Linked DNA regions of Homo sapiens: region 1 is linked to region 2. The links come from fine-mapping of genetic effects on gene expression. A gene starts in region 2. The other region holds a variant in brackets. All regions are shown on one strand. Distances are from middle to middle.

Evidence for each region. PIP is the estimated chance that this variant, and not a neighbour inherited with it, causes the effect.
Region 1: its variant is the best candidate, but not a certain one, in a credible set for the expression of UNC13D in whole blood (INTERVAL, PIP 0.67).

Annotation. Positions count from the first base shown.
Region 1 is chr17:75,798,944-75,803,321 of GRCh38, reverse strand. The region is part of intron 1 of UNK (unk zinc finger); the gene reads right to left. Among named protein-coding and RNA genes, the nearest start is that of UNK, 16 kb to the right of the region's middle. The variant G/A (reference allele first, on the strand shown) is at 2,168.
Region 2 is chr17:75,842,252-75,846,629 of GRCh38, reverse strand. UNC13D (unc-13 homolog D) reads left to right here and starts at 2,226. Exons shown (of 32, transcript NM_199242.3): 1 at 2,226-2,409; 2 at 3,111-3,146; 3 at 3,364-3,471; 4 at 3,557-3,616; 5 at 3,707-3,773; 6 at 4,017-4,197. The coding sequence starts at 2,293. It overlaps WBP2 (WW domain binding protein 2), which reads left to right. Exons shown (of 8, transcript NM_012478.4): 8 at 1-931. RefSeq lists enhancers at 1,287-1,376, 1,507-1,586, 2,005-2,709 and silencers at 1,817-1,976, 1,987-2,046, 2,897-2,956.

The sequences.
Region 1 (4,378 bases), 43 kb after region 2:
AAGTGATTCTTCTGCCTCAGGCTCCCAAGTAGCTGGGACTACAGGTGCCTGCCACAATGCCCAGCTAAATTTTTTTGTATTTTTTAGTAGAGACGGGGTTTCACCGTGTTGGGAGATCGATGGTCTTGATCTCCTGACCTCATGATGTGCCCGCCTTGGCCTCCCAAAGTGCTGGGATTACAGGTGTGAGCCACCGCGTCCGGCCTGTAATTTTTGTATTTTTAGTAGAGACGAGGTTTCACCATGTTGGCCAGGGTGGTCTCAATCTCCTGACCTCGTGATCCGCCCACCTTGGCCTCTCAAAGTGCTGGGATTACAGGTGTGAGCCACCGCGTCCGGCCTGTAATTTTTGTATTTTTAGTAGAGACGAGGTTTCACCATGTTGGCCAGGGTGGTCTCAATCTCCTGACCTCGTGATCCGCCCACCTTGGCCTCTCAAAGTGCTGGGATTACAGGTGTGGGCCATGGTGCCCGGCCTTCTTTTTTAATTGACTACTGACATTGCTCCTAATGTCCTCAACATTTTGAGACACTGTTCCTGCTGAAAAGCTAACACTCTCAAACAAAAATGTGTTTTATCTGGACACACTTCTCCAGCTGCTGCAGTCAAACACAATTTAATTAACTCAACATCAGTAAATGGCTTTCCTTGCCTAGCTAACAAATGAGCCACTCAGAAACCTGCTTCAGTTGTAGCCTGCAACTGAAACTACAAAAATGTAGTTTTAATTCTTGTGAAGAAATTCTGCTGTAAGGAAATATTCCTAGCTGCATGCAGTGGCTCATCCCCGTAATCCCAGCAACACAGGAGGCGGAGGTGGGAGGATCACCTGAGCCTAGGAGTTTGAGGGCAACATAGCAAGACCCCATCACTAAAACAGTTTTAAAACATTTTTTTAAAAAACTAAGCCAGGCATGCACCTGTAGTCCCAGCTACTTGGGAGGCTGAAGTGAAAGGATCACTAAACCCAAGAGTTTGAGGTTGCAGTGAGCTACGGTTGCACCACTGCATGCCAGCCTGGGTGACAGAGCGAGACCCTGTCTCAAAAAAAAAAAAAAAAAAAAAAAAAAAAAAAAAAGACATCTGTGCTGAAAAAATCCATCAGCATTATCAGACAAAGCACTTATCACAAGATTCCCAGAAAAGCAAGCAATGGTCAGAAAAAAATTTTTAGGTCAGGCGCAGTGGCTCACTCCTGTAATCCCAGCCCTTTGGGAGGCCAAGGCGGGCAAATCACTTAGGGTCAGGAGTTTGACGCCAGCCTGGCCAACATGGAGAATCCCATCTCTACTAAAAATACAAAAAATTACCCAGGCGTGGTGGCTCACACCTATAATCCCAACTACTTGGGTGGCTGAGGCACAAGAATCACTTGAACCAGGGAAGTTGAGGTTGCAATGAGCTGAGCGCACCACTGTACTCCAGCCTGGGCATCAGAGCAAGACTCTGTCTCCAAAAAAAAAAAAAAGGCTGGGGGGAGCCGGGTGCAGTGGCTCACACCTGTAATCCCAACACTTTGCGAGGCTGAGACGGGTGGATCACAAGGTCAGTAGTTCAAGACCAACCTGGCCAATATGGTGAAACCCCGTCTCTACTAAAAATACAAATTAGCCAGGTGTGGTGGCGGGCGCCTGTAGTCCCAGCTACTCAGGAGGCTGAGGCAGGAGAATCGCTTGAGCCCAGGAGGTGGAGGCTGCAATGAGCAGAGATCATGCCACTTCACTCCAGCCTGGGCGACAGAGTGATCTCAAAAAAAAAAGGAAAAATAAATTTTAAAGGAATATTTCCTTCTTTATTTAAATAAAGAGACAGGGTCTCACTCCGTTACCAGGCTGGAGTGCAGTAGTGTAATCACAGCTCATTGCAATCTTGACTCCTGGGCTCAAGGTGTCCTCCTGCCTCGGTCTCCCAAAGTGCTGGGATTACAAGCATAAGCCACCATGCCCAGTCACAGCTATCTTTATTATTGGGTGCTTTGCCACCAAATGTGTTAACAAATAATCCACATGCCACCGAGCCTTAAAAGTAAAATACTTGAAGTGCATTTTTCTCTTCCTCTCTTCTTTTGACATAAGAGGTATGCACTGGTGATGAAGAACGTATAAAACATGGTATGCTGGCTGGGTGCAGTGGCTCACACCGGTAATCCCAGCACTTTGGGAGGTC[G/A]AGGCGGGCGGATCATGAGGTCAGGAGATCGAGACCATCCTGGCTAACATGGTGAAACCCCGTCTCTACTAAAAATACAAAAAATTAGCCGGGCGTGGTGGCTGGCGCCTGTAGTCCCAGCTACTCAGGAGGCTGAGGCAGGAGAATGGTATGAACCCGGGAGACAGAGCTTGCAGTGAGCCCAGATCACGCCACTGCACTCCAGCCTGGGCGACAGAGTGACACTCCGTCTCAAAAAAAACAAAAAATGTGGTATGCTGACACGTGCAGCAATGAGAAGCAATGAGCATCACATATAGTCAGTCTCCTGTTGCAACTACTTGAGTCTGTAGTTGAAGTGCACAAGCAGCCAAGACAACAGAGAAACGAATGAGTGCAGGTTCAAAGGAAGCGTTATTTTATTTATTTTTTATTTTTTGAGACAGAGTCTCGCTCTGTCACCCAGGCTGGAGTGCAGTGGCGCGATCTCAGCTCACTGCAAGCTCTGCCTCCTGGGTTCATGCCATTCTCCTGCCTCAGCCTCCCGAGTAGCTGGGATTACAGGCGCCCGCCACCATGCCCAGCTAATTTTTTTATTTTTAGGAGAGGCGGGGTTTCACTTTATTAGCCAGGATGGTCTCAATCTCCTGACCTCATGATCCGCCCGCCTCGGCCTCCCAAAGTGCTGGGATTACAGGCATGAGCCACCGCGCCCAGCCCAAAGGAAGCTTTATTTAGGGACTCTTTGAAATTCATACAATCGTCACATCACGAAATATCTTTTCAACCATTGAAAAAATGTGAAGGGAGGGCACAGTGGCTCATGCCTGTAATCCCAGCACTCTGAGAGGCCAAGGCGGGTGGATCGCTTGAGCTCAGGAATTGGAGACCAGCCTGGGCAATGTGGCAAAACGCTGTCTCTACCAAAAAAATACAAGAATTAGCCGGGTGTGGTGGTGCACACCTATAGTCCCAGCTACTCAGGAGGCTGAGGCAGGAGGATTCTTTGAGCCTGGGAGGTCGAGACTGCAGTGAGCCAAGATTGTGCCACTGCACTCCAGCCAGGAGGATAGACTGAGACCTGTCTCAAAAGAAAGTGAAAACAATTCTTACCTTGTGGGCCTTAAAAAAGCAGGCAGCAGGCTGGATTTGGCATGCAAGCCGGTTTGCTGACCTCTGCTCTACACTTGGGTTTTTTTGTCTTTTTTTTCCCCTTTTTGTGGAGAAAGGGGGCTCGCTGTATTGCCTGAGCAGGTCTCAAACTCCTGGGCTCTAGCTATCCTCTGGCCTCTGCTCCCTAAGTGCTGGGATTACAGGTGACCTCTGCGCTAAACAGTTGGTATGCCCCATCACATCACAGCCTTACATTTCCATACTTTTGATCATGTTGTCCCCTGGGTCTAGATCACCCTGAGGGTTCCCTGGCCCTGCCTGCCCCCGCTTCCATGTTCCTACTGCACTATGTGAATACTGCTGGTACAGCCACCACAGTGGATTCTGACTGTTTTGTACACTGCCACATCGATCATCTTTGTACCCCTGCACAGAGCTGACCCACAGCAGGTGCTTGAGATGTGGGAAGTGAAAAGAAAAGCAAAAAGCACCCCAAGTGGTAGAAACCTGGTACAAAAGCAGCTCTGCACGAACCCAGCAAAACACAGAGGAGCAACTCCAACCTCTGACTTAGATACATCTCCTGGCAATTAACTCAGTAAGCTCTCTCTTCCACATCACGTCTGCTCAGCTTTGTTCCTCACCTGAACACTAAAATTGAGATCTTCCGCCTCACACACAGAGTCGGTTGCTGGCATCTGGCTCTTTTGTCATTGGTGCTGGGAATGTGCAGAGACCATTACAGATTAACTTTTTTGAAAAAGGGTCTCATTCTGTCACCCAGGCTGAAGTGCAGTAGTGCAATTACAGGTCACTGCAGCCTCCCAGGCTCAAGCAATCCTCCCACCTCAGCCTCCCGAGTAGTTGGGACTACAGGCACCTGCCACCCCACCCAGCTAATTTTTGTATTTTTTTGTAGAGATGAGGTTTCGCCATGTTGCCCAGGCTGCTCTCAAACTCCTGACCTCCAGCAACCCTCTTTTTTTTTTTTGTTTTTGAGATGGAGTCTCGCACTATCGCCCAGACTGGAGTCCAGTGGCCCGATCTCGGCTCACTGCAAGCTCCGCCTCCTGGGTTTGCACCATTCTCCTGCCTCAGCCTCTGAGTAGCTGGGACTAC
Region 2 (4,378 bases):
AGGTCTGATCATAAACAATTACCAGGAACTAGCATTGTGGGACATTAGGGCCCCCGGCCTCGGGAGAGGTGCCGCCCAGCTTCCCATGCCAGCCCGGAGCCCACAGTGCTGCCCAGCGTACCTCCCTCACCGTCTGGGGCTCTTCTGGGAGCACGGAGCATCCCCTGTTCCTGTTTCACTCTCAGCTTCTCCCCTCGAAGGGACTCTCTGGCCACCTCCTCCACCGCAGTCCAGCTCCCTCAGTCTGGCACCCACTGCTACACTCAGCCTCATGAGCCACTTCAGACCAGCCAGGTGTCTTCCCGGGCCCTGCCAGACCCTGCTCACATTCCCTCTGCTGGTCTGTGCTGGTCTCAGAAGGCCACCGCGCCCGCATTCCACTCAGCCAGGGTCCAGCTGCAGCCCCCGCCACCCTTCCTTCCCTTCCCTGTCCTGGGTCATGTTGTTGCCACCCTGTGTGACTTTTGAAGCTGTAAAATGAGCTTCCAGGGCTTGGGTGGCGTCGGGGCAGGGCCGCCGAGGCTGGGAGGAAGCCCTTCTGCCTTTTGCTGGTGTTTCTGGAATTTGCTTTCCCTCACCTCTCACTTCCTTCTAGAAGGAGCTTCCTGACTGGAACCAGAGAATGCATGTCTGTCCACTTGGTGGCTGCTGGGTGGGGCCGGGAACAAGGGCCCCTGACCCTGTGTGCTGGCCGGGACCTGCCACCAGCCCCCCAGCCTGCTTCTTCCCCTTAAGCTTTGTGCCCCTGGATGCGCTAACATTCACTCTTGTTTGTCCCTGGACTGGCCATGAAGTGAGGAGATGGTTATTTAAAGAGAATTCCCTATTTATTTGACAAAAAATCCAGTTAATATATTAATGTGAAATAAACCCTGTTTGCACCTCGATTTGTTTGCTGAAAATGTGAAATAGTAAAAATGAAATAACTGGACCCTTTCTGGCTCTGCGTGTGGTGACCCGGGGGTCTCTTCCGGAAGGAGAGCCGTCTGGCCGCTGAGGGCCCTGGAGACTTCTGGGACGGTTCCCTCCCATGGGAGGATCCCCATTCTCACGGCCCAGCCAGCCTGTCTGGTCCCCAAGACAGCTCTGGCCTCTGGAGCTGGTTCTTAACGGTTGTCGCTCAGCAGCTGTGTCCCTCCCCCACTGAGTCCCCAGGGCCTGGCTGGGACAGAGGTGGATGTGGCCCAGAGTTGGCCTTGAAGGGAGGAGTTGGGGCTGCCACCTTGTCCCCTGCTGGCTCCTCGAGGAATGGCAGCCCTGGCCTAAGTCCTGGTTGCTGGAGGGAGGAGGCCGAGTCAGCCCTGGAGCACGTCAGGACCTGTGACAGGGACACTGAGGTAGCCAAGCCGGCTTGCCACCACCCACGTCACGTGCCCTGCTGTGAACTTGAAGGGACAGGAGGGTGGGAAATGGCCAAAGGCCGTGACCAGGCCCACACGCCCGCAAGTCCCCCAGCCCAGCACTGGGCACAGGGTGGGCAGGCCACAGAGCTCTAGGAAAGCCCCATGCTGAGGCGCATTTTCCTGTCCCCCGGGAGCCAAGTCTGTCCTCAGGAGAGATCGGGCAGCAGCCCCTCTGCCTCCTCCTCCTGGCCAGCCTGGCCCAGAGCTCTCTGGGACTTGGCTAAGCCCCCTTCAAGGGTGTCTGAAGGGAGCACTGTCCTGACTGCCAAGGTGGGGGCAGGGGCACAGGGCTGTCCCTGCCCAGCACAGCTTGGCCCCGTCATCTCCAAGGAATGTCACCTGTGGGGCCAGGCAGGCTGAGCAACTGGCTGTCCTCCAGGGAGACGCCTCTTGGGAGCCCCCACCCTGGGCGCCACCACACCCCACCCCACCCCGCCCCGCCCCACGTCTGGACGCACTCGAGGAAGTGGGGTGAGAACCCCCCCGGGCCCAGGTCAGCTTCTCTCAGGGTTCAGCCCAGCCTGGGCACAGCACATGGATGGGGCAGGATGCTGCCCGCCTGTTCTGGGCCCCCCCGCCCCCTGCTGAGAGCGTTGTCCCCTTCCCAGGGCCTCTGTAGGAGGGTGGGGCGGGGCCAGGCCTGCCCACGGGGTCCACCTTCTGCTCCAGCCAGAGGAGGGTCCTGTAGGGATCCCAGCTGGGGAAGGTGCAGGGGGCCTGGGAGACTGCCTCTCCGAAGCGGTGAAACCCTCACCCTTCCGTCCCTCCCAGCCACCCTCCCTAAAACTTCCCCTGACAGAGGGTGGCAGCCCCAGGCTCTTTGCATAATCCTGTGGCTTCGCTGTCTTCACCCAGCACCAGCGGACAGGGAAGGGCAGAGAAGGCCACCATGGCGACACTCCTCTCCCATCCGCAGCAGCGCCCTCCCTTCTTGCGCCAGGCCATCAAGATAAGGCGCCGCAGAGTCAGAGATCTACAGGATCCCCCGCCCCAAATGGCCCCGGAGGTAGGAGTGACCTCACTGGGGAGAGAGCTGGCCTTGGGGAGCACTGTGGTCTCGGGTACGGGTGCCCTGCTGTCTGGCCCCACCTCTCGAAGGCTGGGACTGGGGACCAGCGACCCTCCCCTGCCTACTCCACCCTGGGGAGAGCCCCCTGGGCCAGCAGAGCAGGGGCTGCCAGATGGACTCTGGGCCACTGTGGGCCTCAGGCCCTGTGGTCTGAGGCTCTCAGAACCCCTCCCTCCCGGTTGGCCTGACCCCATCCCCTACTCCTCCAGCTTCAGAAGAGCCGACTCCATTAGGTGGGGGTGTCCCTGCTGTGGGGTGAGCTGTTCGGGGAGCAGCAGACCCCCAGGCCGACGTGGCACCCCCCTCACCTCCGCTGCCGAGCCTCACTTCCGCTGCTGGGTGAGGAGCAGCCGCCACTGATAAGCAGAGCTGTTTCCTCTGGGGAAGGGAGGGAGGTGGGGTGCGGGTGCGGAGGGCTCGCGCTGCTGGGCACCCATGGACCTCAGCCACGGCGGGCCCAGGGACGGACCTCCAGGAGGCCTGCTGGGGGAACAGGTGCGGGGCATCACTGGGGCTGGAGGCCGGGGTGCTGGGGCCCCCATACCCTTGGCCTGGATCAGGCCTCAGAGGAGCCATTCCTGTCCATCTGAGCCTGCTCTGGGCCTCCCGGGACACTGCCTTTCCACCTTGCTCTGCAGATCCAGCCTCCATCCCACCACTTCTCCCCCGAGCAGGTAAGAGTCAGAGTGCTGGGGTGCAGAGAGGTGGGGAGGGCGGCTGTGTGTCCTCCTGCCGGCCGACGCTGATGGCAGCAAGCAACTTGCGGTGGGGAGGGGACTCCTGGGTCTCAACTCCCTCCGCTGCACAAGCCGCCCTTGTCCTGCCCATGGCGAGAGGTGTTGGTGCCAGGGGTGGCTGGTGGGGTCCCCAAGGTGACCCCGTGTGTCTTAGCGGGCCCTGCTCTACGAGGACGCACTCTACACTGTCTTGCACCGCCTGGGTCATCCTGAGCCCAACCATGTGACGGAGGCCTCTGAGCTGCTGCGATACCTGCAGGAGGTGAGCCCGGCTCCCACCCCACCCCCCTTCCTGCAGCTGCCCTGTCTGGTGCCCCCAGCCACCCACCCGCCTGCCTCCCCACCAGGCCTTCCACGTGGAGCCCGAGGAGCACCAGCAGACACTGCAGCGGGTCAGGGAGCTTGAGGTAACCTGGGGCCAGGGTCCCCCTGGGCAAGGAGGGGCCTGGGAAGCCCAGCCCCCTCAGGGACTCAGGCCATCCCTCCTGTCCCTCCAGAAGCCAATATTTTGTCTGAAGGCAACAGTGAAACAGGCCAAGGGCATTCTGGGCAAAGATGTCAGTGGTGAGCATGGGGTGGGGTCCCCAAGGGGCTTCTTCCTGGCTCCTTCCTCTCCCATCACAGCCTGGCCCAGGACTCTTGGCGGGAGCACCCACTTCCAAGAAGCCCTGTAGCGCTGGCCCCCCATGCTGCTGGTCCCCTTCCCTCTCCCCCGGAGGAGGCTCAGCCCCGGGCGGGGGTGATGAGGGCCTCTCCCAGGGACCCAGCCGACTCCCTGGCTGCCTCGTCTTCCCCACTCCTCCACAGGGTTCAGCGACCCCTACTGCCTGCTGGGCATTGAGCAGGGGGTAGGTGTGCCAGGGGGCAGCCCCGGGTCCCGGCATCGGCAGAAGGCTGTGGTGAGGCACACCATCCCCGAGGAGGAGACCCACCGCACGCAGGTCATCACCCAGACACTCAACCCCGTCTGGGACGAGACCTTCATCCTGTACGTGGCCGTGCTCCAGCCCCCACTCTATCCAGGTCTTTCCTGGGTAGCAGGGTCTGCCCCAGACAATGAGATGAGTAGGTCGTCCTGGCTCAGGGGAGGGGGTTTGGCCCTGGGCAAAGACTAGAGGAGAAGCCCATCTCCAGGCACGTTAGGTGGACAGTAGGTCAGATGGGACAGA